2 separate regions of the Homo sapiens genome follow, and region 2 is linked to region 1. The links come from fine-mapping of genetic effects on gene expression. A gene starts in region 1. The other region holds a variant in brackets. All regions are shown on one strand. Distances are between the middles of the regions.

Region 1 (2,911 bases):
CAGAAGGTCCCTCTTGTACACATGCCACTGGGATTCAACTGTGCTATTTTGCTTTTTTTCCCCAGGAAGATGCTTACAGATAAGCCTTTCTGCTGCCTGGATTACAAATAAGGTTCTTTCAATGCGATGATGTTTATTTGGCATAGGAAACAGATTGCAGCAATGCAACAAAGCACACAGTCCTGCGGGCCCATCATCCGCCGCTGTGCCTCCACTGTAGCCCTGTCCAGACCCACGTCCCACTGCAAGCTCCTGGAGGACAGGGTCTGGTTTCTCTCTACTGCATAGCCAAACCCTCGGCAAATGCCTGCCCAGTGAGCTTTCTATTCGGGCACAGAGTTTGGTCTATCCCAAGAGCACTCTTAGAGGCTACGCCTGCATTGCAAAGCCAAACACCACTCCGAGAGACTTTTCAGAGGAAAGAAGGGAATGTGATACCCACTTCTTAGCATTTTGAAGGCAGAACTCCATTTTTGTTTGTTTGGTTTCTTTTTTTAGAGACAGGGTCTCGCTATGTTGCCCAGGCTGGAGTGCATGGCTAGTCACAGGCGTAATCCCATTACTAATCAGCACAGGAGTTTTAACCTGCTTCATTTCCAGCCTGGGCTGCTTCATCCCTTCCTAGGCAACTTGGTGGTCCCCCGTTCCCAGGAGGTCACCAAGTTGATGCCAAACTTAGTGCAGACACCCACAGAATTCCTGGGCTTAAGTGACCCCCCTGCCTCAGCCTTCCAAGTAGCTGGAACTACAGGTGCAGGCTACCATGCCCAGCTGAAGGCAGAATATTAAGCTGAGGGAGAGGTGAGCCACTCAGTAAAATTTACAGTTCCTACAGCAAAAAGTCTATGTATCTTGTCCATGGGATATCTCTAAACAGCAGTACTGACTCAGTGTTGACACCGCAGGCATTTGCGTTTTCATTAAGTTTTATCTACCCTATCTCCCTCACGTTATATCTTCCTTGAAAGCAAGAGGCATGTCTTCTACTTCGTAATTCCTCATGGGACCAATCCTATGGCTCACACACACAATGAGCCAAATAAAAAACTGAGAATAGGCTGGGCATGGTGACTCACACCTGTAATCCCAGCACTTTGGGAAGCCCAGGCAGGTGGATCACCTGAGGTCAGGAGTTCGAGACCAGCCTGGCCAACATGATGAAACCCTGTCTCTACTAAAAATACAAAAATTAGCCAGGCATGGTGGTCAGCGCCTGTAATCTCAGCTACTTGGGAGGCTGAGGCAGGAGAATCGCTTGAACCCGGGAGGCGGAGGTTGCAGTGAGCCAAGATCACACCACTGCACTCCAGCCTGGGCGACAAGAAAGAAACTATGTCTCAAACAAACAAACTGAGAATAACAAACTTTCCCATGGACTGTCTTTACAAACAAAAACTGAATGTGAAAGTAACTTCTCTAAGACCAGTAATGGGACTACAGAGCCTGACTTAGCAGCTGGCCAGCACCGCGGAGGAAACGCCCTCTGACTACACATCTGTTCCTGCATTCACTCAACAAACATCGAAGTGCCTGGCATTGGTCTGCACGGCATAAACAGAACAGAAGGGCTGCCTCCCAGTCCCACCCCTTCCACGCATTCACTTCCTCACTCATTCTTTCAGGAGACACCTGTGTCAGGCACGACGTGGTGAACTTTTAAAAACGGATTCAGTAGTACCAAAATACTCATAATGTGCAGACAGACAAAAGAACTGGAAGGAGTCGTGTTTTCAGACACAGGAAGCTTTTCACGTGCTCCACCTGGACCTCATCTCTCAGCCTCACACTCCGATCTTCAGCAGCCCCCGCTATGCGCCCGAGTCTTGGGACGTCATCCCGGAGCTCCTAGCCTGCCCGGGAGGCAGAGCCATCAGGTAAGAGACGGTCACAATGACAGCAACACAATCCCGCTTGGGTTCTCTGTACAGAGTTTTCCTTTTAAAATACCTTTTCCACTGATGTTATTTAAAAATAACAACCTCAGAGTAGACTTCTGATCTCTACCACAGGGCAGGTACATCCCTCCCTTTTTATGAGTAATTCCTGCAGGGGTTATAGCACGGCCTCCAGGTCACACGGGCTACACAAAAACACTTAGCCCAGTTTTCTAACTCCCAGGGAGTGAAGGAATCACTATTTTAAAAGGTGGCAAGCTTTTTTCTCCTTTACTCAGATTTAACTCTGATAGAAACTGACAGGCTCAATCTTGGTTAATTTTTTTTTTTTAAACACGAGAACAAGGTTCAAGAAATTCATCTTCAGGTGTCAGAGAGACGAAAAGAACCCAATAGCTTTTATCTTCAAGTCCTACATTTATGCATCTCGTAATGAGGGTGATGGCTGGTTCCCTTACAACGGAGGGCTTCATGCCTAGTGAACAACGGACCTGAATTTATATCAGCCATAAAGCCTTCCAGACGTGACGGTCACGCTAACATCCTGACATGAGGCAATCTGCAGAGAGATGGAAAGTGTGCTTGGCTAGAGGTTAGTGCTGCCTCTCTCTATTTTCTTCCCTTGTACCAACTGATTTCAGACTGAGGAACTTGAAGACAGAGTGACACTATGAGCTCATATAACTCTCCTCAGCTCTAAACTCGGCCACAGCAGATGTGTTTTTAAGAAACTAATAGACTGAAAATGACATTTACAGACGAAATGCTGTGACGACTGAGATTCGTTTCAAAATAATCAGGGGAAGAGGAAAAGTGGGTGGGAGGAGACATAAAACAAAGATTGGCTAAGGGCTGATAGTTATTGAGGCTGCATGGATATTATAATATTGGGGCATCCAGAAATATTACATGATGCTTTCTACTTTTGTATATGTTGAAAGGTTTTCATAGTAAAAAGAAAAATCATACCAAGAGACCAGCAACATTTATCAAAGAAGGCTGACTTAGGTATAAGG
Region 2 (2,911 bases), 33 kb after region 1:
GAATTTGTAAAAGAAAGGAAATAGGCTTCTTCATTGAGATCGAGAGCTGAAGCATCAAGAGATAAAAGCAGGTTTTGGAAAACATAAGAAAGAGTTTTCTAAAATATGTCTGAAGATGGAAGAGGCTACTCTGAAGGTGGCAGCTCCCTGTCCCTGGGCCTTCACGTAGTTTCCACTGGACAACTCCACACTCCAGGGAGGCCATGGAGGAGATTCAAGAACTCATGATGGGGCCGGGCGCGGTGGCTCACGCCTGTAATCCCAGCACTTTGGGAGGCCGAGGCGGGCGGATCATGAGGTCAGGAGATCAAGACCATCTTGGGCAATATGGTGAAACCCCGTCTCTACTAAAAATACAAAAATTAGCTGGGCATGGTGGCACGTGCCTGTAATCCCAGCCACTCGGAAGGCTGAGGCAGGAGAATTGCTTGAACCAGGGAGTCAGAGGTTGCAGTGAGCCGAGATCGCGCCACTGCACTCCAGCCTGGGCGACAAGAGTGAGACACCGTCTCAAAAAAAAAAAGAAAAAAAAAAAAAGAACTCATGATGGGATCGTACCTCAGAGTTTTTCCAGCCCCAAAACACTCTGACCCAATTCAACAACTCCCTTAACTCCACTAAAAACTGCAGTGTTCAATACTCTGACCAGAAAAGGATATGGAAGCTCAAGAACTGGTTTTCAGTCACGTCCTATTTACACTCAACTTGAACACTGGCCAAAGAATCAGTCGGCTGAAGAGGCCTGCGTGTGTGGAGGAGGAATGCTGAGGAGACATTGGCCCCAGAATGGACACCGTCAGCTTGTAAGTCCACTAGTCAATTCCAACAGAAAAACCCCAAAAACAGAAACAAACCGGAGGCAAACAGCCCACACCGAGAGGTAAGCAGTTTCTAACTGGGAACTCAATTTCATCCTGCCCATGAGAAAAGCACAAAAAAGGTGATTTTCCAGATTCCACTTGCAGCCGTAGAGATGTGGGACAAATTTAAAAACGAGTCACAATTAACAAAGGATTTCCTAAGTGTGGTGTTGAGCCAGGAAACCTGCCCTGCGTCGCCCATGCTGTGACTGATGCGTGGGCCCCTGAGGATGCCTCCCCGTGATCCCTCGGGCCTTTGCTTCCTCCTCTCCCTCCCACTGTCTCCCCCAACACAGGCAGGCTCCAGGCCGGGACTCCACACTGCAGGCAGAGTCGGGCCAGGGTGCGGCTGAGTGACGGAGCGCCTGGTGAGGGACAGAAGAATCTCTGAGCGGCCCCAAGCAGTGGGGTTCTGGCAGAGCACCGCTGACCCGTCATGGAAGGAGGGGAGCAAACAAGAGGGGCAGGGAGGGAGGCAGCTGTGTAGCAGGCCTGGGGTGGTCTGGCTTATGCACAGTCATTTCTAACGCCAGATCCCCGTCTCTGCACTGACACCGGGGGTGGTGAGTGGCACACTCGGTCCCCCAGTTACAGGAAAGGTCCCTTCCATCCTGGGGACCCAACTCATGAGGGCCCAGAAGGAAGGAGCCACAAAGGTCTGGATGGTTTATCCCCCTGGCCCGCCTGGCCCTCAAGACACACTTCCTTCGGCTGCAGCCTCGCCGATTCCCGAGCTGTTTCCTGCTGCTTTTCTCATTTCATGAACTTCTTTTGAACAATTTCCTGTTCCTTTTTCTTTCTATGCTCCTCTTCCTGGCTCTGTAGCCCTTGAAAAGAAGCAAACAAACAGATAAGGGTCAGCATCTGAGGCCAGACCCTAAGGCC[C/T]TTCCCAGCCCTCTCCAGAGCGTGATGTGGCCCCGTCTGGCTAAGAGCACCAGACGGCGGTGGCTGGAGCACCCCGTGCCACTGCAAACGTGACCAGGAACATGGGTCTGACAGCTCTGGACACACACAAGCAGACGGGAAAGGCGCCTGCCCACTGCCCCCACCCCTGCAAGCACACACCTGCTCGCCAGGAGCAAGGGCAGCGCCGGCCCTCCTCGGGAGAAGCTCCAAGGCCTGTCCCTAGTCCTGCCTCAGGACTTTGCTCGTGAGGGGTCCTCAAGGCCACTGTCGCCCAGACCTTTAGCTATACAAAAGTAAGTGGTATGGTTCATCCCTTCTTGGCTAATGAGGTTTGACCACAAACCAAAATATAAAATGCCCAACTGATTTCAAGGAATTCAGTTCAGACAAAGGGCTAAAGGGTGGTGACTCCAGGCCGTGAGAGGGAAAGACAAGGCCGGAGCATCTGAGCCTTTGATGGGGCCCACCTGCGGCCAGGTGTGTAGCACTTAGAGAACATGTTCTAAAAAGAGAAATAAAGGTAATTTATTTGAGAAGTCGGTGCTTGAGAACACTGTGCTTCTCCTGAGGACTGACTTGCTTCCCCTGAGGACTGACTTGCTTCCTTCTCTCTGACAATGACGGCTCCATAAAGGATGACAATCTCCCTTTTCACACTGGCTGTGTATCTGCGTGGCTGCGTGGCTGCGTGGCTGCGGGGCTGCGGGGCTGCGGAGCATGTTTTGCCACCAGGCGTGCCTTTATGTCTTTTTCTATGAGGTCTACACTTTCATCTTCTACACATTTACCCCCTGGCCCTGAGTGTCTACTTGGTTTTGTTTTTTCACCTTTGTGTCATTTTAGTGAACACCTCAAATTCTCTGAGGGCTGTGACAGGGGACTGAGGAAGTGGATGATAATAGATATCCACAATCATGGTGTGAGCAGGTAACACTGCTTGAGTGCTTACTGTGTGCCAGGTACTGTTGGAAGCTGTTCCTGTATATAAGCTCACTTGGTGCTCACAACAACCCTCGAGATAGGTGTATTTCCATGGATAATGTATCCAGCCATGTGCTGGATCCTCTCACCCTCATTTCAGAGGAGAAGTCTTGGGCCCAAGTGGTTAAGTGCCCACAGGTGGTATCTGGCAGTGCTGGGTTTTG

Evidence for each region.
Region 2: its variant is fine-mapped to the expression of XXYLT1-AS2 in transverse colon (GTEx, PIP above 0.99).

Annotation. Positions count from the first base shown.
Region 1 is chr3:195,146,232-195,149,142 of GRCh38, forward strand. It overlaps XXYLT1-AS2 (XXYLT1 antisense RNA 2), which reads left to right and starts at 1,640. Exons shown (of 2, transcript NR_102711.1): 1 at 1,640-1,874. All of the region lies in intron 3 of XXYLT1 (xyloside xylosyltransferase 1), which reads right to left. It also overlaps the pseudogene RN7SL36P. RefSeq lists enhancers at 1,358-1,467, 1,708-1,757.
Region 2 is chr3:195,178,829-195,181,739 of GRCh38, forward strand. The region is part of intron 2 of XXYLT1 (xyloside xylosyltransferase 1); the gene reads right to left. Among named protein-coding and RNA genes, the nearest start is that of XXYLT1-AS2, 32 kb to the left of the region's middle. RefSeq lists enhancers at 1,230-1,807, 1,808-2,385. The variant C/T (reference allele first, on the strand shown) is at 1,746.